Regions from separate parts of the Homo sapiens genome. Here regions 1, 3, 4, 5, 6 and 7 are each reported to be linked to region 2. The links are microRNA targets in miRTarBase. Many come from high-throughput screens and were not tested one by one. Region 2 holds a microRNA gene; each other region holds the end of a gene's coding sequence. Distances are from middle to middle.
What was found. The annotated mature microRNA hsa-miR-4708-5p reads AGAGAUGCCGCCUUGCUCCUU and lies in region 2 at 1,976-1,996, shown strand. An mRNA with a match to its seed (bases 2 to 7 or 8) in the 3' UTR can be bound and repressed. Matches are read on the target gene's strand: a 7mer-m8 pairs with bases 2 to 8, a 7mer-A1 pairs with bases 2 to 7 and ends in A, and an 8mer does both.

Region 1 (4,067 bases), not on the chromosome of region 2:
CCTGAGCTCAAGCAGTCCTCCCACATCGGCCCCGCAAAGTGCTGGGATGACAGGTGCGAGTCACCACACCCAGCCTCCATCATTGTTTATACTGAGCATCGCCTGTGGTCAGTGGTGGGATTGCACTGTGTATTGTTTGGCACCTTTTTTGCACTTGACTATGTATCTTGAAGATCCATCCATTCATGCCAGAACATAAATCAGCCTCGTTTTTTTTCACAGCTGCCTGCTATTCCATCTCCCCTGTTTGGACAAACAGCATAGTGTTGACTTGAGGTTTTCAAAGCAGGGCCCACCCTTGGAGCTCTGTACAGTGACACATCTCCCCATCGACAGCTCTGCAGTGGGCCTGGGGTTTTCCTGCCCATTACTCTCCTCCCAGCATGTCAGCTTGTTCAGAACAGTGATTTCTGTCTTTTGGGGTCACTGCTGATTCCCCGGCCTCTAGAATAGAGGTTGGCACACAGCAGGTACCTGTGGATATTGGTTGAACAAACAGGTGGGCAAAGTGAGGAAGATAAGAAGTCCATCCGTTCAGTTTCCCCACTGCGGAGGGAATAACACTGTCTTTCCACAGGTCACAGACTGGGATGAGCAACGGGCTGAAGGCACGTTTCCCGGGAAGATCTGAACTGGCTGCATCTCCCTTTCCTCTGTCCTCCATCCTTCTCCCAGGATGGTGAAGGGGGACCTGGTACCCAGTGATCCCCACCCCAGGATCCTAAATCATGACTTACCTGCTAATAAAAACTCATTGGAAAAGTGAGACTATGCGTGTGAACGGGCCAGGCAGTGGCAAGAAGCTGGGCTGGAATCAGTGCCCTGACCAGGGAGGGGCTTGAATGAGTATTTTCTCTGTTTTGTTTTTATTTATTTAATTTAATTTAATTTTTTTTTTTTTTATGATGGAGTCTCGTTCTTCACGCAGGCTGGAGTGCAATGGCACGATCTCTGCTCACTGCAACCTCCACCTCCAGTGTTCAAGCGATTCTCCTGCCTCAGCCTCCCGACTAGCTGGGACTACAGGCACACCCCACCACACCTGGCTAATTTTTGTATTTTTAGTAGAGATGGGGTTTTACCATGTCGGCCAGGCTGGTCTCAAACTCCTGACCTCAGATGATCCACCTGCCTCGGCCTCCCAAAGTGCTGGGATTACAGGCATGAGCCACCATGCCTAGCGTTTTTTAACTTAATTTTATTGAACCTTGGCCACCCTCTCTGTGCCAGTCAATGAGTCAAATAGTTGATTATACAGAATAACCTAAGTTCCTATGTGTGCAACCACCCTACATAATTTTAAAGCAAATTATATAGATTATAATATAATATAAAATACATAAAGATTATATTTTATCCAGAAATAAGAAACTATATGTATCTCTTGGAGATACAATTTTTTTTTTTTTTTTTTTGAGACAGAGTCTCAATCTGTTGCCCAGGCTGGAGTGCAGTGGTGTCATCTCAGCTCTCTGCAACCTCTGCCTTCTGGGTTCAAACTATTCTCCTGCCTGGAGATACCTATTTTTTTAACATAATTATTTACACCTAAGAAATTAGTTCTTAATGGCCGGGCACAGTGGCTCATGCCTGTAATCCCAGCACTCTGGGAGGCTGAGGTGGGCAGATCACCTGAGGTCAGGAGTTCAAGATCAGCCTGGGCAACATGGCGAAACCTCGTCCCTACTAAAAGTACAGAATTAGCCAGGCATGGTAGCACATGCCTGTAATCCCAGCTACTCGGGAGTCTGAGGCAGGAGAATCGCGTGAACCTGGGAGGCAGAGGATGTGGTGAGCCGAGATCATGCCATTGCACTCCAGCCTGGGCAACAAGAGTAAATCTCCATCTCACCAAAAAAAAAAAAAAAAAAAAAAAAGAGTTCTTAATATCTAATAAGCAATCTCCTGCACAATGTGTAACTTCTCCCCGTGTTGGGACCTGCTCTTTCATGCTGATCATGATGGTAGTTGGAAGTCATTTAAGTAGGCCAAGTTGAGAGCTGTTCTTCATGGTGCCCCCAAAAGAATTGCCACACAATAACAGCCCAGAATATCCCCAACAGACTCGTCAACAGGGACCTAGCTAGCATGACCAGCCGGAACACTCTTATGGCTGAATTGGTGTGTCCTCAAAACCTTTCAAATGGCCGGGGTGTGGTGGCTCACACCTGTAACCCTAGCACTTTGGGAGGCCCAGGCGAGTGGGTCACGAGGTCAGGGATTCAAGACCAGCCTGGCCAAGCTGGTAAAACCCCATCTCTTCTAAAAATACAAAAAAAACTATAAAAATACAAAAATTAGCCAGGTGTGGTGGTGCGTGCCCCTAATCCCAGCTACTGGGGAGGCTGAGGCAGGAGAATCACTTGAACCTGGGAGGTGGAGGTTGCAGTGAGCTGAGATCACACCACTGTACTCCAGCCTGGGCGACAGAGCGAGACTCCATCCCCAAAAAACAAAAACAAAACTTCAAATGGTTACAAACTTGTCTGATGCATTCACATGAGCAGGGATGATTCTTGTATGGAGAAAAATGGCCCCAGAGATAGATCTTGTGAAATAGCTGCTCATGAAGAAAAGTGGCTGTAGGGGCCGGGCGCGGTGGCTCACGCCTGTAATGCCAGCACTTTGGGAGACCGAGGCAGGCAGATAACCTGAGGTCGGGAGTTCCAGACCAGCCTGACCAACATGGAGAAACCCCGTCTCTACTAAAAATACAAAATGAGCCAGGCGTGGTGGTGCATGCCTGTAATCCCAGCTACTCTGGATGCTGAGGCAGGAGAATTGCTTGAACCCAGGAGGTGGAGGTTGCTGTGACCCGAGATTGTGCCATTGTACTCCAGCCTAGGCAACAAGAGCGAAACTCCGTCTCAAAAAAAAAAAAAGTGGCTGTAAACAGGACCTTAGTGCACACACAGGGAGCTTGAGGGATCGTGGGAGGTTATGGCGTGGGTTGGAAGTAGCAAAGAACTTAAACACCATGAAAAAAAAATTTTTTTTTTGAAATGGAGTCTTGCTCTGTTGTCCAGACTGGAGTGCAGTGATGTGATCTCTGCTCACTGCAACCTCCACCTCCCGGTTCAAGCAATTCTGCCTCAGCCTTCCAAAACGCTGGGATTACAGGCGCTTGCCACCACACCCAGCTAATTTTTTGTATTTTTAGTAGCGATTTAGAGAGTAGTTTCACCGTGTTGACCAGGCTGGTCTTGAACTCCGTGACCTCAGGTTAACCATCCACCTCGGCCTCCCAAAGTGCTGGGATTACAGGCATGAGCCACCACACCCAGCCAACACCATGAAAATTTCAAATGAAACAGGACGGCCAGTGAAAAGTCAAGGTGCTGGACTCCTTGAGTCCAGCTGCCTGATTCTGCCCAGGGTTTGCCACCAGTGCCAGTGTTTCCTGTACATTCCTTTAGAGATAGCTCATGCATCTAGAAGTATTTGTAAATATATTGATCTGATTGGATATGGTGCCCTTTTGCTCACACAGCCCCTGCCACACTGGCCTCTTCAGTGCACAGGAACTGTGAGCAAATGTATTTCGACACACCAGGCTGGCTCCAACCCCGGATCCTTTACACTTGCTGTTTGCTCGACCTGGAATGTTTGGCCACCAGCTGTCCACAAGCTCACCCCTCACTGCCTTCAGGTCTTCATTTAGCGAGGCCTTCTCTGACCACTCAGCCTTCACCTTCAGCTCCTCCATCTTTGTGCCCCTTCACTCCTTTTGTTTCTTTCTCTTTTTTCAATTTTTATTTATTTTTTTAGTTTTTGGAGATGGAGTCTCTCTGTCACCAGGCTGGAGTGCAGTGGCGCAATCTCAGCTCACTGCAACCTCAGACTCCCTGGTTCAAGCGATTCTTCTGCCTCAGCCTCCCAAGTAGCTGGGATTACAGGCACGCGCCACCACGCCCAGCTAATTTTTGTATTTTTAGTAGAGACGGGGTTTCACCATGTTGGCCAGGATGGTCTCCATCTCCTGACTTTGTGATCCACCCAGCTCGGCTTCCCAAAGTGCTGGGATTACAGGTGTGAGCCACCACACCTGGCCTTGTTTCTTAAGCACT
Region 2 (4,067 bases):
GTAGAAAATTTTCATGATTGGCCTAAAGAATCCAGATTCACCTTCCTTGGGCTGGCTGAGTCCCGCATCCCAGAGCTCCTGGTTGATATAACTGAAAGAAGTGGAACTAGGGTAGGAGGCTGCACTCCAGGAGATAAAATGGTCTCAAAATAAGCCCTTGAGACTTTTTATAAGTCACAAAATCCTACTAGTTTTTCAAAGTGCAGCTCAAATCTTGGGTCTTTCATTAATCTTTCCCTTATTATCTTAACCAGAAGCAGCCCATCCCTGCTATAAATTTAAAACCTTGAGTATCGGCCAAAAACACTGGAATCATTCCTGATTTCTCTCTTTATGTCATAAATCATAACCCTATATCTCATCTATCTTGTCTACTCTACCTTCATTATATATCAGAATCTAATCTCATCTCACCACCCTTAGTCTCTTCTCTCTGGTCCAAGCCACCATCATCTTCATCTCATCCCGGATTATTGCAGCACCCTTCTCACTGGCCTCACACTTCTCCTTGTGCACTCTTGGAGTCCATGCTCAGAGTGATCCTTCCAAGGTGTGAGTCCAATCATGTCACTGCTCTACTCAAAGCCCTCCAATGGCTTCAAAACAAAATCTAAAGTCCTTACCACCACTTGCAGGGTCCTCAGTGATCCACTCTGTCACCTCTCTCATGTCCTCTCCTGCCCACAGTCTCCTGCTCACTACTTTCCAGCTACACTGGCCTGCTTGTTCTTAGAACTCACCAAGCACACTCCTTCCTGAGAGCCTTCGTGCTTGCTGCTCGCCTTGCTTAGAAAATTCTTCACAGACTCAGATGACTCACTCCCTCCTTCTTCAGATTTTGACTCAAATGTCTCCTTACCAGAGAGGTCTTCTCTGATCTCCCATCTAAAAAACCACATTCTCTTAACCATGTCACTCTACCCTCCTTAATCTGCTTCATTTTCCTTCAAAGTACTTCCCAGAAGCTGGTGTATTATACATATTTATTTGCTGACACTCATCTTGGCCTCTCAAAGTATGTCTTGTCTCATTAGAACATAAGATCTAGGGGGTGGGGGAATAGGGGAGGGATAGCATTAGGAGAAATACCTAATGTAGATGACGGGTTGATGGGTGCAGCAAACCACCATGGCATGTATATACCTATGTAACAAAGCTGCATGTTGTGCACATTTATTCCAGAACCTAAAAATATATATATACATATATACACATATATACGTGTGTTCCTTATACATATATATATATAAGGAACATAAGATCCATAAAGCCAGGGGTTTTATCTGTTTTGCTCCCTGTTTTTTGAGACAGCCAAGTGTAAAGGGGTCCCCTGAGAAACTCCGACTGGCCTGCGCACTGGGAGAACAGGGTGGAGCTGCAGAAGTTCACACCCTTTGCAGCAGGAAGGAGCCTGGCCTCTCCTGATCCAGGGTAGTACATGGGATTCAATCAGTGAGGCAGGAAAAACCAGCAAGCAGGACTCTCACTTTGCTGAGAGTCCCTGTTTCCATTTATTTTCCTTTTTGCCCAATAAGTTCCATTCTTCTCACCCTTCAAAGTGTCTGCAAGCCTAATCTCTCATGGCTGTGTGACAAGAATCCGGCTTTTAGTTGAACTAAGGAGAAAGTCCTATAACACTTTAGCCTCAGAGCTTACAACAAAACATAATTAGTGCTCCATATATATTTGTTCAATACTTATGTATTCCCTTAATGTTTGTTATCTGTTGGGCATGGTCTCTAGCTGCTATCTTTACACACATCCTGTCTCTTCAACGGGAACATACGATTCTTAAAGGCCAGAGCTGAGTCTTAAAGCTCAAGGCCTTAACATAAAGAGGCCACTCCAAAGTGTATGTTGTTGACATTTGGAGGGAGGATACATTGGGGCAGTAACAGCTGTTGTTATGTTACCTACCCGCTCTTGGCAGGGCCCTGAGAAGCTGAGGTATGAGACACAACAGCATATTTAGGAGAGAGATGCCGCCTTGCTCCTTGAACAGGAGGAGCAAGGCGGCATCTCTCTGATACTAAAAGGAGAATACGGGAGCACCTTTCTTACCTACATTTCCCCTGGAACTAGTCTTTCCACTTGCAAGTTTGTTTACAATTCCACGTTCTTTGCAACTGAATGGGGCCTCACCCTCATTAATTGGTGGCAAAGGTCACTCCTTAACAGATGCTAAACAGAAGCAGAGCAAAGTTAAGGGTGGCTAAGGTCACACAGAGTCGTTGCTCAAATTTAGGAAGGAAACCCACCTAGTGTGAGGTGGGGCCCCAGGAGGGGCATCTGAGCCCCAAGAGAGCAGCTCTCTTTAGCCCCTGCTCTAGTTTCTTTGCAGTTCTCCTAAAGAAGTTCACCAGCAAGGCCATTTACCAGACACCAGGGAATCAGGCCACTTTCAAATGTTGATAGCATTACGCTTGCCAGAGGAGAAAGGGACAAGTGAGGAGACTGAAGACAGTGCTTTCAAGAAAAAGAAGAAAAAGATATTGAATGTGCACTCGCTAAGCCAAAAAAGCAAATGCCAGGAAGAACCGTGAGCCTTGTTTGAAGCCAAGTCTGCGCAGAAGAGTCCCAGGTGTAGGGAAGGAGGAGCTGAGGTGGTCTGAGGACGCACAGCAAATGCCCTGGGGGGTGGGGCGGGAGGAGAGAACATATTTTAAGCAACCTTAAAAGACTCGTTTTAGCATTCCGCAGGAAATGAAAAGCAGATGTGTTGGTTTGGAACTTGTTTACATATTTGGCCTCTGAGAAGCTTCCAGGACAGTTAGGACTGGAGAGAAGGGGTATTTTAGGCAAATGCTATAGTCTCCACTTGGAGAGAGTGGGGCCCTTCATTGGCTCACCTGCTTCCTGAGAAGCAAGCATTTAGGCTGAAAGACCATCATTGTCCCTAAGACAGGTCTGGCTAGAATAAACCAGGATTTGATATACAGAACTGGTCTCCTTGTACCTTCTTACAGAAACTAAGGGTTGTTGCACCTCCTCTCTTGCTTTCAAGTCACACCCACTGGGCAGAGAAGTGAAATCAGAGGCCTGGACATTGGGAGGATGATGGGATGGTTCACACCAAAGGTCCTGAGATTTGCAGAAGGCTTGTTAGAATACAGATTACTGGGTCTCACCAGCTCAGCCGAGCTAAGATGAGGCCAGTGGCTACACACTGGAATCATCTGGAGATTAAAATAGACTGATAGCTGAGCCCTGTTCCCACAGATTCTGATATTAATTGGTCTGGGGTGTGACTTAGGCATTTTTTAAAAATTATTTTTAATATATAATAGAGAGGGGGTCTTACCATGTTGCCTAGCTGGTCTCAAACTCCTGGCCTCAAGCAGTCCTCCTGACTCAGCCTCCCAAAGAGCTGGGATTATAGGCGTGAGCAACCATGCCCAGCTGACTTGGGCATTGTTTAAAGCTCTCCAGATAATTATAAGGTATAGCCAAGGTTGAGAACCATTGAACTATTTATCTTTTACCTGCTCTCATCATTCCATCCCTAGATTAACTTCAATTTACCTTCATAACATGTTCACAAGGTGGTTAGGACCACAGGAGACCGTGGGATCTAAATTAGGCATAAACCTGGATTTAGAGAAGGGGCTAAAAGAATATTGCTCTCAGAGACATCAACTATCAAAAAATCTATGTAAATGCAGGCAATTCCCCTTTTTTGTAGTATGTCCAGGAAATGGCGCTCCTTAAAAGATATTTTTTAGTTGCTAAGGGACAGGAAAAGTAGCAATCTTTAACACTTATTGAGCATTTATTATGTGCCAAGTACTCTTCCAAGTGCTTTCATTTTAAATTAATTTAATTTCCACAACAGCTCAATGATGTTGGAGCTGTTATTTTCCCCATTTAGCAAATGAGGAAACTGAGATACTAGGAGATGAACTAATTTGTCCAAAATCACACAATTAGTCAGTGGTAGAGCTGGCTTTCAAATTTTGGTGTGCCTCTGAATTACGGAGACTACGGAGACTCCGCTGAGAAAGAAAAATAGCTCAGATCAGTCTGAGCTATGTGAAGTATACAAAATTTATCAAGCCTGGAGAGACAGG
Region 3 (4,067 bases), 4.1 Mb from region 2:
TAAAGTAAGGTAGAAAGGGTTTTGATTATATATTATGAAGTGATATTTGCTCTAAAGGAAATTCCAGACTATTAGTCTGTCTCTGAATCTTAATAATTACATAGGCCGGGTTTGGTGGCTCACACCTGTAATCCCAGCACTTTGGGAGGCCAAGGCGGGCAGATCATTTGAGGTCAGAAGGTCAAGACCAGCCTGACCAACTTGGTGAAACCCCATCTCTACTAAAAGTATATAAAAATTAGCTGGGCGTGGTGGTGTGCACCTGTAATCTCAGCTACTTGGGAGGCTGAGACACGAGAATCTCTTGAACCCAGGAAGCGGAGGTTGCAGTGAGCCGAGGTTGCAGTGAGCCAAGTTCACATCACAGCACTCCGGCCTGGGCAACACAGTGAGACTCTGTCTCAAAAAAAATAATAATAACAATAATTTTATAGTGAGCAAATTGGTTAGTTGATTTGATTGTGGAGATACCTGGAAAATCTTTGTCATATTATTGTTTTAATTTTTTTTAACCATCTGAGAAAATACAGTGACATATTATTGTTTTAGGAGCTCTCACCAACTACTTTACTTTCTCTTTTATGCTTTTATTTTACAAAGTTAGGTCAAAGCTCATTTCCAGTCCAATTGTTGAGGTTCACTCTTTTCTATCTCACTTCCTGAAGATACTTCTAGCTAGTGAACATTTACTGGGCAACAAGGGAATTCAGGCCAACAAGAACCTGGAAGCCTGAGACACCAGACAAAATGTTACAGCACAGGGATCATTGCAGGAAAACGTTTCCCATTTCAGTTTTAAAGTTTCTGCTGCTTTGAAGTCCAAAATATCCAATAAATAATTGCAATTTATAATTGAAGTAAAATGCAGAAGACTACTACAAAAATTTTTAAATTGACATTTATTAAATTCAAACAGTATTTGAGGACTATCTAGTTTATATACATGTTGAGGTTGATAAAGTATTGAGGACTATCTAGTTTATATACACGTTGAGGTTGATAAAGTTCAAATTCTGTTTTAGGAAGTTAACAATGAATTGAGTTCATTTTAACTGAATGTTACTATAAAAGATGGTTTTCTTGCTGCAATGTAAATCTGCTATTAAGAAATTAGCAAAGTGGCTGGTGGTGTTTGTGCCTTTAAGATCATCGTTCAAAAGAATTCAGCAAACTCGATAACAAAGGTAAGACAAACATAACCTTTATTCTCTCTCAAAAACCCAGAGAACAGGGCCTGGAACCATATTCGTTAATTTAACCAGAATCAGAATACTTTAACTTTCATAGTCTCATTTAAAATTTTATAGCAATATACTGACCATTCTAAAAATAACAAAATACATGTTGCTCTCAACTACATAGTTAAAAAAGGTAGTAAATTCTCTTACCCAAAATAGAGGAGGGGTGGGCTAGTGAGCTGCTCAAACATTTGTAACAAATAAAAATGTATCTATATACATATAATGATCATGTTTTCATAGCCTAAAATCACCATACAAAATCTAATAATAAAATTGTGTCGTGTTCAGGAGTTGGGAAGCCAACACATTAAATTAACAAAGTATTTTTGGTATATGTAAATAATGGGATAGAATCTCTCGAATCAGGATTGTCCCAGAAGTTCTAAGGCAGATGTCAATGACATGCACATTGTCCATGTTCAGTAATTTTCAAAGACTAGAATAAACTATGTAAACTATTCAATACAATTCAATATTACTTAACTGCTAAAAAGTACTTCAAGATCTTGCACTGCCTTGAGTGAGTATAATCAAGTTAGTAATTGGAAAATAGCTGTAATAGCAGGCACTGAAGAATTCTGACAAATACCAAATAACTGTTTGTTTTTACCAAATAAACTGGTAAGATGATATCACAAAGGGTTTTAAGTTATTTTGCTATACAAGGTTTTTAAAAATAAACTATTGCTTCTTAGAATAACTTTAAACATACTGATTGATGTTAATCAATAAAATCAATGGAATGATTTTAGTTGAGTGTAAACTTCATCTCAAAGGTTCAAATAATCTTAAGAATCTAGTTTACATATAAGACTATATATGCTTTAACATTGATTCAAATATGATTACTAGAAATCAATAGATTTCATTTGAAAAGATAAAAAAAATTTTTTTTCCAGGTCCAAGGGAAAAGGTATGAATGAAGCCCTTTCTAATCACACACACACACACACACACACACACACACACACACAATGACAAAGAACACTGAGCTAGGAGACATAGATGTGACTTTAGGGAACTTACTTTCCCTCGAAGATCTCTTCCAGCTATCTGATTCTACGTTAAAGCATTTCCTCTGAACTGTACAAACTGGCCTCACATTTTCGAGTTTCTACACAGTACCTGGCAAAGTTTGCCTGTTGGCTTTTACACCAAAATACTAAAATATCAAATGAATCACATAAACCCTGTCCTACAACTCTGTATGCCAACTAGTTTTCCCCAGATAGTAATTTTTTAAAAATTCATTCCACAAATCATCAAGAGCTTCCTACGTTCAAGGCAGAGTGCCAGACCAAACCTGGAACATCATGGTTGTCACTGCCCCTGGGAACAAATTACTATCCGAAAAAGTGAATTCAGTTGACTGCTTCAGGCCCAACCTGGTTCAGGGTCGTGATTCCCAAATTTGAGGGAATATGGGACTCTCCAGTGGAGTTTGTTAAAACACAGCTTCGAGGATCTCATCCCAGCCTTACTGTGTCTGAATCTCTGTTTGGTGTCTCCTAATCTACCTGCATATTTAACAAGCATGTTCTCCCTCACGCCTCCACGTCTCTGCAGGTAATTTGTGGGCCTCACTCTCCATTCCAGCCCACTCTCCCCGACCAAAGAAAAGAAAACCACTGTACTGTAGTGGCGAAAGCCCTGGACTCAAGATTCAGGAGTCACTTGCAGCTGCCTGATCTTTGTTACTTCACATTGCTAGGTCTCTCAATCTCTTCCTCTAATAGGGGTTTAATAGGAGTCTCCATAGGGATCCCTTCCACTCTCAGACTTGAAGAACCTCACATGGCAACTCAGTGTCGTGAAGGAGGTGGGAAGAGTTTGCAAGGATGTTTCACTCTGCAGTCAACATCCCTCCCCGCGGCAAGACAGTCTAGCAGCCCCCCAAGAGCAAGGGGGGTAATTCCCTTATCTGGTCCCCTCATTCACAAAGGGAGGAAAAGCTAGGCGAGGTTGGAATTGGGTGACGGGCGAGGAGGAGATGCCAAAAGCACCTTGCAAGAGTTTTGGCAAGAAGCAGGAGGGATCCCTGGAAAGCCGGAATCACTCCTCGTCGTCGTCGTCCTGGTCCTGGTAGCGAATGTAGACGACCAGCATGACAAAGCCGGTGAGGATGCAGAGGGAGCCGACGACCAGGTAGGCGATGCCCAGGAAGGGGTTCTTGCCACCCATCCACGAGATGCTGCTGAAGATGAGGAGCTTGTGGCCGCCGAACGCGCGCACCGGGTAGTTGTAGGTGATGTTGACGCGGTAGGCGCCCCGCGGCAGCCCGGCCGAGTAGTTGCCCTGGCGGATGCGCGCGTACAGTTTGCGGAACGTGGGCAGCGCCGCCGTGCGCATCCACACCACGAAGTCCTGATTGATGAAGCCGGTGTTGTTGGGGTCGGGGCTGAGCTCGTAGACTGGCCGGCGCCAGTTGGGCGGGGGCGCCGTGCCCTGGAAGGCCAACGCCAGGCTGCCGTTGACCAGCGGCGGGTTGCGGAACTTGACGTGGTAGTCGGTCCACCAGGCGATGCCGGAGCGGTCGAGCGGCACCTCGACGTAGGGCCCGCCGGGCTGGCGCTGGTGCCAAAGCGAGAAGGAGTCGTTGAAGAGGCTGTTGGCGATGGCGCCGCAGGGCGCGATGGGCAGGCCGGCCGCGCTGCGCTGGTAGGGGGCGCACTCGTTGACAGGGTGGCGCAGCGCGCTGGGGAGTCCGCTCAGCTGCGCGTCGTCGCGGGACACGCCGTAGCGCCGGTTGTTCTGGTAGAAGTTGGTCAGCTCGTAGTAGAGGTACACTGGGCCCTGGAAGAGCTCGGGCAGCGAGAAGTACCAGGC
Region 4 (4,067 bases), not on the chromosome of region 2:
CCCGTCTGTCCTAATCCATAACTAAAGGAGTTTGACTGTATTATCCCTTAAGGTTGACAGGTCTGTGATGGAGCAGGAGCGGGGCAGGGTTCTATCTGAGTCCTGGCTGCAGGGTCACCCCAGTTGCCTTCTCTCACTCTGTCTCTCCCCTGCAGCCGACAAGGAGGCTGACGAGTATTACATGAGACGGCGGCACCTGCCCGACCTGGCTGCCCGCGGCACCCTCCCCCTCAATGTCATCCAGATGTCCCAACAGAAGCCGTTGCCAAGGGAACGACCCCGCCGGCCCATCCGGGCCATGTCCCAGGACAGGGTCCTGTCCCCGGATCGGGGCCTGCCAGATGAGTTCAGCATGCCCTACGACCGCATCCTGTCCGACGAGCAGCTGCTCTCCACGGAGCGCCTGCACTCCCAGGACCCGCTGCTGTCCCCGGAGCGGACGGCCTTTCCCGAGCAGTCGCTGTCCAGGGCCATCTCGCACACGGACGTCTTTGTGTCCACACCCGTGCTGGACCGCTACCGCATGAGCAAGATGCACTCTCATCCCAGTGCCTCCAATAACTCATACGCCACCCTGGGCCAGAGCCAGACGGCAGCCAAGCGTCATGCCTTTGCCTCACGCAGACACAACACGGTGGAGCAGCTGCACTACATCCCGGGCCACCACACCTGCTACACAGCCAGCAAGACCGAAGTGACCGTGTGACCGGCGGGGCAGGGCCGGGGCTGCTGGGCGTGGCAGAGCAGAGCGGGGGCCGGGAGGGGCCAGGAGCAGAGCTTCTAGCCTTGCCACTCTCCCTTCCCTTGTCCCCTCTGTAGGAAGTGGGGGTGGGCCACCTTTGCCCAAAAAGCCATACCCCCGGGGACACAGCCCCGATGGCCTGGTCCAATACACTTAGACCCAGGACCAAGAGCAATCGCTCTTGCTCCTCCAGAAGAATCAGTGGGGAGTGAGGAGGGGGCTAGGCCCCATTCTCACCCCCGACCACCTTCACCAACTCCCTTTCCGTCCCGCGCCTCCTTCTCCCCATCCGGGGGACTCAGCTGCAGGTTCTGTCAGCAGAGAGACCCTTGCTTGACTGTGGTCTGAAGCTGCCTGGGTTTGAAGGGGCCAGCGGGTCCAATCAGTGGGCTGACCGGATAGGCTACTCGGTCTCATTCATTCATCTAGAACCGCATCACAGAAATCTCCTAGTGCCTAAAAACTGCCTGCTCGCTCTCTCAGAGCCAGGGAGCTGCTGTGTCCATAAGCACAATAATGATTCTTTTCTTGCCTGCTGGAACTCTCTGGTCCCCACTGAGTGACCCTTCCTTTGCTGACCCCTGAGGGCCCAACCCTGGCCCTGTGCCCCTCCCCTCAACTCCAGGACCAGGAGGGGTTCCCTTCCTTCAGCTGCCTCCCCATTGGTGGGAACTCCACCCCCTTCCAGCTGACTGCCCGCCCATAAGGACCCTGGGCCTGTCCTTTCAGCGGGCTGTGCTCCTTCCCTGGCCCTGAGGATTTCACCCTTGAGTTTTCTGGGGTTTTGGCTGTAGCCTTCGCAGAGGGGAGTAGCAATGGGGTGCTGGCCCTCCCAGACACCCGATCATCTCCGCACTCCCTCCAGGCCTCTAGACCTGACCATGACTGCCACTCAGGCTGCCTTCTCCACCCCTGCTCTGCTCCCAGGAGGCACCTGCGGTGGCCAGAGAGCCAGGGTGGGGAGGGCCACTGTGATGTGCGGGGTCTCGGGCTCAACATTCGCATCCTGCAGGGCTCCACCTGTTCCCACATGCACCTCCGGCAGGACCTAGACAGAAGTTTCTAGAGAGCAGCTTTTCAGCCCCCAGACAAGGAGGATGAGAGGTGGTTGTCCTGCATCCTCTCCGCTCATCCTTCCTTCCCCATCTCTGTCTACCTGCTCAGTTCAGAGATCACTCCTACTGCCTGTGTCCCCTTCCCCCACATCCTCCCTGCAACTTTATTCCTCCTAGCTGATCCTTCAGATCCGTGCCTCCTCTGGATCAAAGGGACAAAGACCTATTAGCAAAAGCAAACAAAGGTCCTCCAGGCGACTGGCCTAGGGGCTAACTGGGCAGGTCCCCACAGCATCATCCCTTTGTGCAGGCACTGGGGTACCTGGTAGACCATGGTCCTCAGCTCTGTTGGGGGACCGCCACTGCCCGCCCACCTCAGCCTCTTCCCCGCCTCCAGCCTGGGGGTTGGCATGGTGTGACGGCCTCCTGGGGAGGTGACAGTGAATTCAGCAGCATCCGCTCCCCCAAGACCAGAGAGCCTGGTGGGGGAAAGAAGGGGTTCCCTCATTCTCAGGGCCAGGGCACCCGCTGGGTTGGGGCTGGGGGAATCAACTCCAGGCTATTGGGTGAAGGTGTGATCCTAAAAACAGTCAGATCCAACAGCAGTGCCCTTATAAATGGGGTTTTACCTGCCCTCAGTTCTGCACTCATGGCCCTTTAAAAAGGCGAGTGTAGAAGGAGAATTTATTGGTGTCAGCCCTGGAGATTTTTAATCTAACCAAGTCCACAAACCACAGAGAAAGCAATGGACTGTGTCCTTTCACTGATTTCAAGAGTTCCAAAGCTCTCATCTCCTTCTCCCCTCTGCAGGGTGTGCCTCCCAACAGGAACAGGAAACCATCACCCTGGATCTTAGGGGGATGGAGGCTGGGGGTTGTGAAAGCCACTGTCAGACCCCACACTGGGGATGCATTCCTGGAGTCGTGCGGCTGGAAGGCCAGGGACTACCCTCTCTGCTTTCCTCCCAACAGACACATAAACCTTCTTAAGGGCTGGTCCCCAGGGGTTTATAAGAGTTTGTTCCAGAAGGTGAGGCTAAGAGGGTTGGAAAGGAAGAAGTGAGTCTGAATAGAGCAGGTGGCTCCCAGCTGGGCCCCTGAGCCCAGCACCTTTGAATCGTCTAATCTGTGGCCATCCCTTGGAAGGCAGGATGCTGGTGGTGAGGGGAAAGGACCTGAGTGGCTGAGAATGCCCTTCCCAGGTGTCTACATGCAGGTATACACCAAACCAGAAAGCTGATCCCATCTCCAGTGTCAAAGCTTCTCAGCACCAAGTTCTCCAGCCCCCAGGGTGACACTTTTCCCCAGGGGTCCTCCCCAAGCCCTGTCTCTGACAGGGTTTCTGTCTCTCTCAGGGGTTGTTGATGAGTTGATTCCAAGACATTTCTCATCCCAGCCTTACCACTGTCTGGCTGAAAGGCTCTGATGTCAGTTGGGTTGGAAAATTCTACTGCAATGCTTACTTCTTTTCAAGGATTTCTTCTGCTTCACCTTTGGGTCTAGAAGCAAGGAATGAAGGGAGGGAGAGAGGGAGGGAGGGAGGGGAGGAGGGAAGAAAAAAGAAGTAGAGATAGGTCTACAGACTTGCTCCAATTCAGTCCCACATTTCAAAATCCAGAAAACTATGTCATAGCTGGGACAGAGAGGTATCCCATTTATTCAGCTGTCCCATCCATCTTCATGGAACAAGCAAAGCCACATCAATAGGCAAGTTCACGTAGCAGATAAAAGAGGCTTCTGGGGCTGGAACCTAGATGCCATGATTTCTAGCCCAACCAGGCTGGTGGCCTCTACCATACATAGAAGTACCATCCACCCTTACAGTAAAAGCCTCCCTCCTGCTCACAAAGGAAGCCTAAAGCCCAAGATTTCCCTCTCCTTGTTTTATTCATTTTTGCACATCTCTGTTGCTCTAACAGAAATGAACTGGAATCTGCACAGGTTCTCTCCTGCCCTGAAAGTTCTGCCTGGTTTCCTTGGCCTCTGATGGCATTGAAGCTTTCACAATCCCTCCTGCATCTCCACCTTCCCTGTCTTGCTCCAGGCTCCTGGCTCCATGCCTTCCTGTGTCAAAAAGGCTTTGCCAAGAATTACTTCACCTCCTAACCAGGCTTCTGCCCTCAGGGCTCCCCCAGTGTCTTGGGAGTGTCTTGGGCCACACGACTGCCTCTTAGAAAGTTCCAACCTTGCCCCCAATTCAAATTTCTCCTCCCCTCTTTCCACTCTCCCTCCCAGAAACTCCTGATTTCCAGAAAACCTCAGATTTCCAGG
Region 5 (4,054 bases), not on the chromosome of region 2:
ATGACTCAGAATAAAAACTGTAGATTGGGCCAGGTGCGGGGGCTCACGCCTGTTATCAGCATTTTGGGAAGCTGAGGCAGGTGGATCATGAGGTCAGCAGTTCGAGACCAGCCTGCCCAATATGGGGAAACCCTGGTCTCTACTAAAAATACAAAAATTAGCTGGGTGTGGTGGCGCATGCCTGTAATCCTAGCTACCTGGAAGGCTGAGGCAGGAGAATCACTTGAACCTGGGAGGCGGAGGTTGCAGTGAGCCGAGGTTGGGCCACTGCACTCCAGCCTGGGCAACAGAGCAAAACTCTTTCTCAAAAACAAAAAAAAACTGTAGACTGAACTTCACCCACTGAAAAAAAGTTATATGAACTGGAAATTTCTTCAAATTGTAATATCAGTATGGAAAAGAAATATTATCTCAAATTTCAAATTCACAGAGGTCACTTTATTATTTTGCCATGTTTAACATTCACTCTTAAAGTAGAAGATTCTGCATAGAAATTAAGTTACACTACATTACAGAAAAGTAAATTTAAAATTCTTTACTTACCATTAGAACTCCTAAAATTTTGATTTCTAAAATATATTCTCTAGCAAATTTTGTATTTGCTACACGTTGTATAAAAATCTAGGCCAGGCGCAGTGGCTCACGCCTGTAATCCCAGCACTTTGGAAGGCCGAGATGGGCGGATCATGAGGTCAGGAGATCGAGCCCCTCCTGGCTAACACGGTGAAACCCCGTCTCTACTAAAAATACAAAAAATTAGCTGGGCGTGTTGGCGGGCGCCTGTAGTCCCAGCTACTCAGGACACTGAGGAAGGAGAATGGCGTGAATGTGGGAGGCGGAGCTTGCAGTGAGCCGAGATCGTGCCACTGCACTCCAGCCTGGGGGACACAGCGAGACACTGTCTCAAAAAAAAAAAAAAAAATTAAACAGATTTCAACAAGAAAAAATAATAAAAATTTAACCTACGGAAACAGTATTTTTTAAACTTATTTGCAGTTGAAAGCCACTGGCAAAGGAGATTACCAGAGATGTTAGTTGATTACATTACCAAATAGTATATTCTTACTATCATTTACCTACACCTTTGAGTAAATGGGATAGGTTTCAGTTAGTGGCATAATAATGCTTCATTGAATGCACAATAGTATTAACATGTTAAAAATGTATAATGAAACAAGTTCACACATCATCTGAAAATTTAAAAATGTACTGCATTTTATTACATAAAAGTACAAATAGTAAAATAACGTACTAATTTTTTAATTTTAACAAAACTTAAATGTTCTTACTATAATGCAAAAGAATATTACTCTAAACACCTACCTCATGCACCACTCAATATCATAATTAACCACAAATACCATCTCCACTTAGATTTTCATCATGCATGTTACATTTTAATGTCCTTACTCTTCCAAAGAAAAGGTCATAAATAATGCCCACCTAAAAAAAAAGAAACTCTCCTATCTTTGATGCCGTGACAACTGATCACATGCTTTCACATGTGAATACAATAGAAATGAAGAAATAGCATCAAGTAACTAGAGAGTTGAATCACAGCAATATTAGCTTTTTAAAAAATCTGTACTTCTTTTCAAGGAAAAAAGAACACTTTGGGCCGGGCGCTGTGGCTTAAGCCTGTAATCACAGCACTTTGGGAAGCCAAGCTGGGCAGAGCATGAGGTCAGGAGTTCAAGACTACCCTGACCAATATGGTGAAACCCCGTCCCTACTAAAAATACAAAAGTCAGCCGGACGTGGTGGTGTGCACCTGTAATCTCAGCTACTCAGTAGGCTGAGGCAGGAGAATTGCTTGAACCCAGGAGGCAGAGGTTGCAGCGAGCTGAGATTGTGCCACTGCACTCCAGCCTGGACGACAGAGAGAGACTCTGTCTCAAGGAAAACAAACAAACAAAAAAAGTATACTTTGAATGTAATTACAAACTTCCAAAAAATCTTCTACTCCTTTTAAAGTTATGTACAAATAAATTTATCTACCGTTAGTTTGGGATCATTTTTAACAGTCAGCACTTTGATATAGTGTAATGTCTGAAGCATCCATACCTTAGTTTGTTTGTTTTTGAGATGGAGTCTCACTCTGTCACCCGGCTGGAGTGCAGTGGTGCAATCTCGGCTCACTACAACCTCTGCCTCCTGGGTTCAACGGATTTTCCTGCCTCAGCGTCCCAAGTAGCTGAGACTACAGGCACGTGCCGCCACGCCCAGCTAATTTTTGTATTTTTAGTAGAGACAGGGTTTTACCATGTTGACCAGGATGGTCTCAATCTGTTGACCTCATGATCTGCCCACCTCAGCCTCCCAAAGTGCTGGCATTACAGGCGTGAGCCACCATGCCCGGCCCTACCTTAGATATTTCCACTGTGAATTCTCTGATATTTACATAGACTTATTTTGGATTAAATGTTTTAAATATATACTGCATCTGCAAAAATATATCTCAGTATGAACCCTCTGGTGTTGTCTAAGTTGTAGTTTTGGAAAACTTTTTTTTCAAATTTATTACATTTGCAGGGTTTTTCTCCAATCTGAATTCCCTGATGTTGAACAAAGTTTAAGTAACTGCTTCAGGGTTTTCTCTAGTACAAAATGTGTACAATAAGATCTGTGATACAAATAAAGGTATTACAATCCTCTTTTATTTGTAATGTTTGTCTTCAAAATAAATACTTTAAAAGCTTATATTTTCTGAAATACTTTTTGACAGTAATTAAATTTATAATACTTTTTTTAAGTACTCTCTGATGTTGAGTAAGATGTGAGCAGACATTAATGGCTTTTTCACAGTCTTTATATTGGTACAATTTTTCTCAAGTATAAATGCTTTCCTGGCAATAAGGTGTGAGTATTCATTAAAAATTTTGCCACATTCTTCACACTTGTAAGAGTTTTTCTAGTAAGAATTATCTTACCTACAATCAAGTGTGACAATCATTTAAAGATTTTGTCACATTTTTCGCATTTTTAAAGTTCCTCACCAGTATGATTTATTTTATGTTTAGAAAAGTTTGAGGTGTTGTCAGAATTACTGTGATGTCTTCCAGCTTTGTAGTTTCTCTCCAGTTTAAGTTTTTTTATGTTTAGTAAGATTTAGGGACCAGTTAAATGCTTTGCCACATTCTTTACATTTGTAGGGTTTCTCTCTAGTATGAATTATCTTTTGTTTCATAAGGATTAAGAGCCAGTTAAAGGCTTTGCCACATTTATCACATTTGTAGGATTTCTCTCCAGTATGAATTATCTTGTGTTTTAATAAAAGTTGAAAATACACTAAAGGATTTGACACATTATTTACATTTGTAGGGTTTCTCTTTGGTATGAATTCTCTTATGTTTAGTAAGGTTTGGGGACTGGTTAAAGGCTTTGCCACATTCTTCACATTTGTAGGGTTTCTCTCCAGTATGAATTATCTTATGTTTCATAAGGGTTGAGGACTGGTTAAAAGCTTTGCCACATTCTTTACATTTGTAGGGTTTCTCTCCAGTATGAATTATCTTATGTGTAGTAAGATGAGAGGACAGAATAAAGCTTTTGCCACATTCTTCACACTTATAGGGTTTCTCTCCAGTATGAATTTTTTTATGATTAGTAAAATTTGAGGAGTAGTTAAAAGTTTTGCCACATTCTTCACATTTGTAGGGTTTGTCTTCAGTATGAATTACTTTATGTTTAGTAAGGATTGAGAATATACTAAAGGCTTTACCACATTCTTCACATTTGTAGGGTTTCTTTCCAGTATGAATTACCTTATGATAAGTAAGAGTTGAGGACTTGGTAAAGGCTTTACCACATTCTTCACATTTGTAGGGTTTCTCTCCAGTATGAATTACCTTATGATTAGTAAGGTGTGAGGACCGGTTAAAAGCTTTGCCACATTCTTCACATTTGTAGGGTTTCTCTTCAGTATGAATTATCTTATGTTTAGTAAGGGTTGAAAATACACTAAAAGCTTTGCCACATTCTTCACATTTGTAGGGTTTCTCACCAGTATGAATCCTCTTATGTGTAGTAAGGTGTGAAGATAGGGTAAAGGCTT
Region 6 (4,067 bases), not on the chromosome of region 2:
AGGCTGAAGCCGGACAGTTGCTTGAGCCCAGGAGAATAGCCCGGGCAATACAGTGATATCCTGTTCCCCTCCTCCGATAAAAAACAATTATAATCCTTGGGAAGACAAATTTTAGTATAATATACTTTTTTTGTTTTTTGAGATAGGGACTCTGTCACTCAGGCTGGAGTGCAGTGGTGCGATCTTGGCTCATTGCAGACTCAATCGCCTGGACTCAGGTGATTCTCCCACCTCAACCTCCCAAGTAGCTGGGACTACAGGCATGTGCCACCATGCCCGGCTTGTTTTCTTTTGTTTTTTGAGATGGACTCTCCCTCTGTCGCCCAGGCTGGAGTGCAGTGGCACGATCTCGGCTCACTGCAAGCTCCGCCTCCCGGGTTCACTCCATTCTCCTGCCTCAGCCTCCTGAGTAGCTGGGACTACAGGCGCCCGCCGCATGCCCCACTAATTTTTTTTTTGTATTTTTAGTAGAGACGGGGTTTCACCGTGTTAGCCAGGATGGTCTCGATCTCCTGACCTTGTGATCCGCCCGCCTCAGCCTCCCAAATTGCTGGGATTACAGGTGTGAGCCACTGCGCCCGGCCGAAGGATTTTAAGTAGGATAGTGATATACAGTCCGACTTCTGTATCTGCAGATGCAAAGAACTACAGATGGAAAATATTTGGGAAAAAAGACAATACAACTATAAAAAACAATACAGTTTAACAATTATTTACATTGTATTAGGTATTAAAAGTAATCTAGAGATGATTTAAAGTGCATGAGATGATGTGCATAGATTATTTGCATTTAAATCATCACAATAATAATTATATGCATTTTTTTTTGAGACCAAGTCTTGCTCTGTCACCAGGCTGGAGTGCAGTGGCGTGATCTCAGCTCACTGCAAACTCCGCCTCCCAGGTTCAAAGGATTCTCCTGCCTCAGCCTCCTGAGTAACTGGGACTACAGGTGCATGCCACCACACCCAGCTAAGTTTTGTATTTTTAGTAGAGATGGGGTTTCACCATGTTGGCCAAGATGGTCTGGATCTCTTGACCTCGTGATCTGCCCGTCTTGGCCTCGCAAAGTTCTGGGATTACAGGCATAAGCCACTGCACCCAGACTATATGCATTTTATATAAGGGACTTGAGTATCCCTGAATTTTGTTATCTAAGAAGGGGTCTGGGAACCAGTCCCCTGGGGATGGCAAGGGACTGCTGTATGTCACATGGATGCCCTGACAGCAGTGTGGGATGAATTGTAGAGAGCAAAGACTGGAGGAGGAAGGAAGTGGAAAGGAACACGAGAAAAACAGAAAAAAAAAAAAACTAGTTCTCACTGGGGAAAGAAAGCAACATAATTCATCAAGTATGAAAAGCAAGGCACGAAGGCTTTTTCACTTAATCTGCATAATAAACACATATTGCTATTCTCTTTTTTTTTTTGAGACAAAGTCTCACTCTCGTCCCCCAGGCTGGAGTGCAATGGCGCAATCTTGGCTCACTGCAACCTCTGCCTCCTGGGTTCAAGCGATTCTCCTGCCTCAGCCTCCCAAGTAGCTGGGATTATAGGCACCTGCCACCACGCCAGGCTAATTTTTGTATTTTTAGTACAGACAGGGTTTCACCATATTGGCCAGGTGGTCCCAAACTCCCGATCTCAGGTGATCCGCCCTCCTTTGCCTCCCAAAGTGCTGGGATTACAGACATGAGCCACCGGGCCCGGCCAAATATTGCTATTCTCTTATGTATGAGACTCTAAGAACAGAGTCTCATACAAGTCTCAAGGTCACAACAGGTACTGAGTAGCCAACTCAGGATTTAAAGCTGATTTTGTTGTTACAGGAACGGCAAAAAATAAATAAATAATGTGCTTGTGATGTCATGTACATTCAGAATTTTTATTTTAAAACAAAGAATCAAACAAACAATAATGGAAAATCCATATGGAAATATTCACAATCTTCTCAGTGAGAAATAGGAAAACAACTTCCCTGCCTTACTGCCAAACTGAGGAGCCAGAAGTTGACGTGAAGTTGGAAGGCCACCTTTCCAGCTAAACCCCACTCCATAGCTACGTGCATTTTTATTCAAAGGCTCCAGGAGCAGAGGGAACAGTGAGAACTGAGAACCAAAATACTGTCACTGGCAAGGGTTTGGCTAAAGGGTCTGAGATGTGTAAGCACCAAGAAGGGAAAGGGAGACTGAGCAACATATGAAAAAGGGGCTGTAGGAACAAACACAGAGAAAATAAGTCAACAATAACATACTTCCACCCAGAGCAAAGTGACAGTGCACATACATTCATCCTCTCAAGTGTGGGCTGCACTGCACATTGACTCATACTGTCTAAACCTGGTTTATTGGAAAGATTCAAGTCCCCTGAGGGCATTCGGCATAGGACCACAGTGACATGGTAACAGACATACGCAAGCGTGCCGTGAGCCTAAAGCAACAACACACTTTAGATAATAATCGCTCAGAAAAAAATCCTCTCCCAGAGCTGAGGTTACAAATTCCAAGTTTGCTGTAAACATTCTTTGGGGAATTCCTTTAAAGGTATGAGTTAAAATAAAACAGAAAATCAACACCTAAAATCTCCTAAAGAACAAAGTGGAGAAATAATGAATCTCTACCAAGAACCAATTATTTTAGGTTTCTCATTTGGATGGCTCTCCCACTAGATAGGTGGCGGGATTACTTCAAAAGTAATGAGACTACTACAAGGAGTTATTTCGTCCAGTGAGGGGAACAGGCTTTCTAGAAATCACTTTCTCTTCCCTGGACTCCATCCAAAATTAGAACCCATCAACCGCCATTAACTACAATGCCCATATTAGTTAATAATCCTAGATTTCAAGTACTACTACATGTAAACTATTATCTTAAAGATAAAGTTCCAAAGGAAATGAGTAGCTTTATTAAATAGGCATACAACTTTTCTGAGAAATCAAAGAGTTTCCATCTGAAGGACAGAAATTGTTAAGAGGTAATGTACAGACCTCAGGCACCACATCATTTACCCTCCAATAATGAACAACATTTCTCCCTGAATTCTTATTGCACCTTAACCTCTCCAGCATCAAATCTTTTACTCTATAACCTCTCTTTAAACACCTCCCTCTAATCTCAATTTCCTTCTGTTTTTATTATTTGGCAAAATTACACTTAAAAAATAAATATTTATGTAATTAAACCAGAGGATAAGATAAATAAAACTCAAGTTAATTTGCCGCGTAGAGCTGTATGGAAGTGAGGAAGGTGCTCTTACATAAACACCCTCCGGCTTCCACACTCATATGTATCTGCTTCCTGGTAAGTCTGAGGTTGGGGCAACTGCACCTTACTTTTCCTCTCCTATATCCTCTAGTGCGGCAATATCAGAACCCAAGGGAGGAAAAGCTGGCAAAGTTGTCATGTGCCAAGCGGCCAATCCCTCCTGAAATGAAGGTAGGTTCACTCGGTCTCTCCTAAGCAGAAGAGGATGTCCAGGAAATAAAATTTAAAAAGCCATTGAAGATCCAACAAACTGCAGCCTTGGGGTGCTCATGGAGTGCGTGGGATGAGAAAGAAATCAAGTAGCAGCATTCAGAAGCAGTCCTGGGTTCATCCTGATAAAGTCTCTCCCTTGTTGAGGGAGAGGTGGCTTTCCCATGCCGGGAGGGAGGTGGAAGGAGGCATGACTTAGACATTGGTGGTGGTCTCCTTAGCAGGCTCGATGCTGTTCATCCCCATGACGCCGTCCTTCCCAGATCTATCTGCACCGTGTGCCTGCCCTTCAAAGGCCCGTGTGATATCCTCAAAAGTCCTGCCACGGGTCTCAGGGACTTTGAAGAAGGTAAAGGCCAAGAAGGTAATGAGGAAGCCGGTGAAGATAATAAAAACGTAGGCTCCTAAATAGTACTAGTGAAAGGACAGAAAAAAGGAAGGTTGATATAAAAATCTGGTCATTGACAAATACAATTTCCTTCACATTCATATTTCCAATAGGCTTCAAGCTATAACCCTTCCATATTTAATGAAAACATAAAGGTTTCTTCAGAGATTTACTTATGATTCTATTGCTAACTTACTATATTTCTCT
Region 7 (4,059 bases), not on the chromosome of region 2:
GGAAGACTTACAGAGGGGAGTAAGACAAGGTCCTTGTTCTCAGAGGTTAGCCCAGTGGGAGGGAGAAGCTGTGAGGTGAGAGGCTGAGACAGGTCAGGCTGTGTATATGTCGAGATGAAGAGGTAGGACAGGTGTGTGGTGGCTTCAAGGGCCACTGGTAGTAACAACAACTAGCATTTTGGGGGTGTTTTCTAAATGCCAGTTCCTGTTCTAAATACCTGTTCTAGCTCATTTAATCTTCACAATAGCCCTTGAAGTTTGGCCCATTATTCTCATTTTATAGTGGAAGAAACTAAAGCACAGAGAAATTAAGAAACTTAAGTTCATGCTGCTGCTAAGTGGTGGAGCTGGGATCTGAACCCCGACAGTCAGGTTCCAGAGCTCTTTCCCCCAATGTCATCTTTGTTGATGCTCTTTTCCCTGCATTTTCTGTGATGTCTACTGATCACCCAATCTCACCCACCCTGGTGTCCACACAAGGTATCTCAGTGCCACATACCAGGGTCTGAAGTCCATGTTGTACTGCTGTGGGAACAGAACACTTTCATAAAGCTCAATCCCAGTAGCCAAAGCCAGCAGCTTATGTTAAAGCTCATCGTGTGCTTTGAATCTCTTCACTCTTCCAAGACCACCAGGATGAGGTGGAGAGCTCTGCTCCAGGAGGCATAAGATTGGTTCATGGTCCTGACTGCCCTTGCTCTTAGGGAAACCCCCCCTCCCCAGTTTCATGTTGGACAAATGTGACCTCTAGGACCTCACTACTCAAAGGGTGGTGTCTGGACCGGCAGTCACCATCTCCTGGGAGCTGGCGAGAACTGCAGACTCTCTGGCTGAGTGCTGAGTCAGAAGCTGCTTCCTAACAGGCTCCCTCAGTGATTCCTGCATGTAGTCATGTGAGAAGCCCTGGGCTAGGGCCCTTGGGCCATATTCTTTATAGTCTGTGTGCCAAGCTTCTCTTATCCATCATCCCAGGGGCACCTGTTTGAAAGCCTTTTCCACTGGTGTATCTACTTCCAACTTTAAGCCTTCTCCAAATGTCTAGAATCTCTTTCCCTTCCCCCACGAGAAGCAGCAGAGAGCTGTCTCTCTCCTGTGCCTTGATGAGCCCCCCATGGTCCTCCACACCTATCTTCAATAATCCCCATCCAAGTTTTAAACTTATCCTTGTTTTCTCCTGATAAGCCAGGAGAAAGCTCACCACCCTCACCGTGATGAGATGTAACAAAAATGAACTATCTCTAGTACACCCCACTTTTATGAGACCTGTCTCAATGGTACTAATCCTGACAGGATGTAGACACTCATATGACCAAAGAATTAAGCAGGATTCCTTTTAGATGAGCTTCCCTTATAAGGAAACGGGAACTTCTACAACTCTGGCTAACTGGCAGAACCACAAATTGTGAAACAATTCAAGCTTCACTCTCTGAGGTCATATCCTCTATGAAAACTGGTATGTGCCCACGTGACTGCCTTAGCATGGATTTGGTGTCCCTTTCCAAAAACAAGGAACTGTGCCTGTGTGGCTCTCCTCCCAAGGCATGCAGAACCTTCTTTGCTTCAGAGTAGCCATGATACGTTTCCACCACGCCTGTGCCTTGGATGAAAGTGGAGATTTTCAGGATTACGATTCTGGGAGGTTAGTGAACAGGTGCTATTCCTTGCTCTCAGAGGCAGATCCAATTATGTCCACCCAGTTCAGGCTGAAAGAAATACATTTCTATTTTTTCCAGAGTGTAGAACACTACTTTGCATACAAAAACCATCTCTGGGAAGTTACAAAGTCATTTATATGGTTTGTTGTTGGGTTTTGCTTTTTTGCTATTGAGAGAAAAGAGAAAGGTAGAGAAAGAGGTTGAAGGTAGGGAAGGCTTGGGGAACAGAACCTTGTTTGGCCATTCCATAAAGTAAATCACCATTTCCAAAATTGATAGAGTAGTAAGAAACATTAAAGTTATAATCCCCTCTTCAAGGAGCTACCAGCTTAAGGAACCAAACACCACAACATATACTGCCTCTGGTCCCATAATAATGTGCAGGTGGGCTCTCTGCAAATTCCAGGGATGGTGCAGGTCTCTTAGCACATACACCTGGTTCACTTACAGGTAATCCCCCCAACATGGTTTGGCTCTGTGTCCCCACCCAAATCTCATCTCGAATTGTAATCCTCTGTGTCGAGGGAGGGATCTGGTGGGAGGTGACTGATCATGGGGCATTTTCCCCCTGCATGCTGTTCTCACGATAGTGAGGGAGATCTCATGAGATCTGATGGTTTAAATATGGTGGTTTCCCCCGTGCTCGCTCTCTCTCCTGCCACCTTGTAAAGAAGGTGCTTGCTTCTCCTTTGCCTTCCACCATTATTGTAAGTTTCCTGAGGTCTCCCTAGCCATGTGGAACTGTGAGTCAATTAAACCTCTCTTGTTTATAAATTACCTAGTCTCAGGTAGTGTCTTTATAGCAATGTGAAAACAGATGAATACACCTCTTATTCAGAAATGTCAATTTCTGTCACTTAATTCTTTCTCTGGTTCTGCCCTTTTAAAGTTAGAATTGCTCTTAAAGAGGGAGAAGTCTACTGGAGATCCACAAGCCTAAAATGATGTGAAATCTTGAACATTCAATCTCTGTACTACTACTTAAGATGACTGGGATTAAAATGACCATTGGAACCTCATACAATATTTAGAATCAGACCACAGCAGCAATTTCAACCATCAATGGCATTTTATTGTGGAAGTTTCTATGTATTACATAGGTATTAACTTCCTTCCTCTCCTGCTCCTCCCCACAAAATCCAGAAAGTTATTTTTATACATAAACAACTGAACATATAAAAATCTTGGACCTAATTTCTCTAAAGTCTTGGGTTAAAAGAACTTGAGTGGCGCTTCTCCTTTCTGAGAGTACTACTTCTCAAGGAGGATTCATGGTCTGTCCTTTGCTCACTACAGATTTCTCCTCTTCTCTGGGAAAAAATGGTCAATGCTTCTGCTTCCTTTTAATAAACTAATTTCTTGATTATTATACATTATTATTATTCCCCACTTGACACCTTCTTAGAAACTTGATTGTTGGATGTGTTTTTCATTTGGCAAAAATTCAATGTGGCTTTGCGTGGGATGTCTGAAGTGTCAGAAACAGCACTGTTGATGTTCTGGTTTTGAGAGGGAAAATATATATAGAGATGCATACATTCCCTAGAAGAACAAATGTAAAAGACTGAAATAGGGCGTGCACAGAGTTAAGAGGGCTGACAGACACTACTTGGTTTGGAATTCTGTGGCTGTCAGCCATCAAGGACTGCTGTGTAGGCCAGAATATAAATCTCCTTAGGAAGAAGTTTGGTTAGGCAAAACCACTGAGAAATGACAGTGGCTGCTACATTGTTCGACGTATATCAGAGCAGACATGCACAAGAAGCAGCATTATGGTTCATGTGTAGTAAGTAGTCACCTATTGATAAACAGGGGCATTTGTGCAAATGCTCTGGCAACCTAGGCACTGGGGGAAGAGAAAAGAAGCATCCTATTAAAATGTACTTCCATCTCTAACTCACCCAAGATGCCAGGCCTCCTAAGCTTCATGACTTGCAAAGCCAAAATGAATTTAGCATTACATGTCATTCTATGTCATCTAGAAGCTGGTTCACTGGGGCCATCTCAGAAGAGCTGCTCAAGAGGGTAGCAAGTCTACCCAGAAGGGTATGCCTTAATGATCTTCACGTCGTCCACAGGGCGGTCCTGGGAGTTTGTTTCTACCATTCCCACGCGATTCACCATTCCTATGCCCTGACACACTCGGCCAAAAATGGTGTGTTTGCCGTCAAGCCACTGGGTGGGGGCGAGGGTCACAAAGAACTGGCTGCCATTGGTATCTGGCCCCGCATTGGCCATTGCGAGAATTCCAGCCCCTGGTGGGAAAAAGGAAGAAAGGAAAGAGTATAAATAACCCCACAGGTCCAGTGTAGAGCTGCTGCCCCATCCTAGGGATGAAAAAGCAGCCAGGACTTTGTTCTGGCCTCTGTCCAGACCCAGACAACCCCTCAGGGCAGTCTCTCTG

Region 1: miRTarBase lists COX6B1 as a target of hsa-miR-4708-5p. Seed matches in the 3' UTR shown: 7mer-m8 at 639-645.
Region 3: miRTarBase lists TMEM30B as a target of hsa-miR-4708-5p. Seed matches in the 3' UTR shown: 7mer-m8 at 3,229-3,235.
Region 4: miRTarBase lists SHISA6 as a target of hsa-miR-4708-5p. Seed matches in the 3' UTR shown: 7mer-m8 at 3,812-3,818.
Region 5: the mRNA of ZNF708 is a reported target of hsa-miR-4708-5p. Seed matches in the 3' UTR shown: 7mer-A1 at 2,082-2,088.
Region 6: miRTarBase lists SLC2A14 as a target of hsa-miR-4708-5p. Seed matches in the 3' UTR shown: 7mer-A1 at 2,154-2,160.
Region 7: miRTarBase lists PPIL1 as a target of hsa-miR-4708-5p. Seed matches in the 3' UTR shown: 7mer-m8 at 3,182-3,188.

Annotation. Positions count from the first base shown.
Region 1 is chr19:35,658,017-35,662,083 of GRCh38, forward strand. It overlaps COX6B1 (cytochrome c oxidase subunit 6B1), which reads left to right. Exons shown (of 4, transcript NM_001863.5): 4 at 578-766. The coding sequence ends at 631. Among named protein-coding and RNA genes, the nearest start is that of UPK1A, 6.5 kb to the right of the region's middle.
Region 2 is chr14:65,333,084-65,337,150 of GRCh38, reverse strand. MIR4708 (microRNA 4708) reads left to right here and starts at 1,968; the gene lies at 1,968-2,034. RefSeq lists enhancers at 720-869, 930-1,029.
Region 3 is chr14:61,276,799-61,280,865 of GRCh38, forward strand. It overlaps TMEM30B (transmembrane protein 30B), which reads right to left. Exons shown (of 1, transcript NM_001017970.3): 1 at 572-4,067. The coding sequence ends at 3,294. It also overlaps a transcript of PRKCH not described here. Among named protein-coding and RNA genes, the nearest start is that of TMEM30B, 2.5 kb to the right of the region's middle. RefSeq lists an enhancer at 3,002-3,965.
Region 4 is chr17:11,557,599-11,561,665 of GRCh38, forward strand. It overlaps SHISA6 (shisa family member 6), which reads left to right. Exons shown (of 6, transcript NM_207386.4): 6 at 156-4,067. The coding sequence ends at 706. Among named protein-coding and RNA genes, the nearest start is that of DNAH9, 39 kb to the right of the region's middle.
Region 5 is chr19:21,289,969-21,294,022 of GRCh38, forward strand. ZNF708 (zinc finger protein 708) reads right to left here. Exons shown (of 4, transcript NM_021269.3): 4 at 1,192-4,054. The coding sequence ends at 3,306. It also overlaps the pseudogene COX16P1 and the pseudogene VN1R83P. Among named protein-coding and RNA genes, the nearest start is that of ZNF708, 37 kb to the right of the region's middle.
Region 6 is chr12:7,810,649-7,814,715 of GRCh38, forward strand. SLC2A14 (solute carrier family 2 member 14) reads right to left here. Exons shown (of 11, transcript NM_001286234.2): 11 at 1,866-3,886. The coding sequence ends at 3,668. Among named protein-coding and RNA genes, the nearest start is that of NANOG, 23 kb to the left of the region's middle.
Region 7 is chr6:36,852,124-36,856,182 of GRCh38, forward strand. PPIL1 (peptidylprolyl isomerase like 1) reads right to left here. Exons shown (of 4, transcript NM_016059.5): 4 at 2,706-3,910. The coding sequence ends at 3,690. Among named protein-coding and RNA genes, the nearest start is that of CPNE5, 15 kb to the left of the region's middle.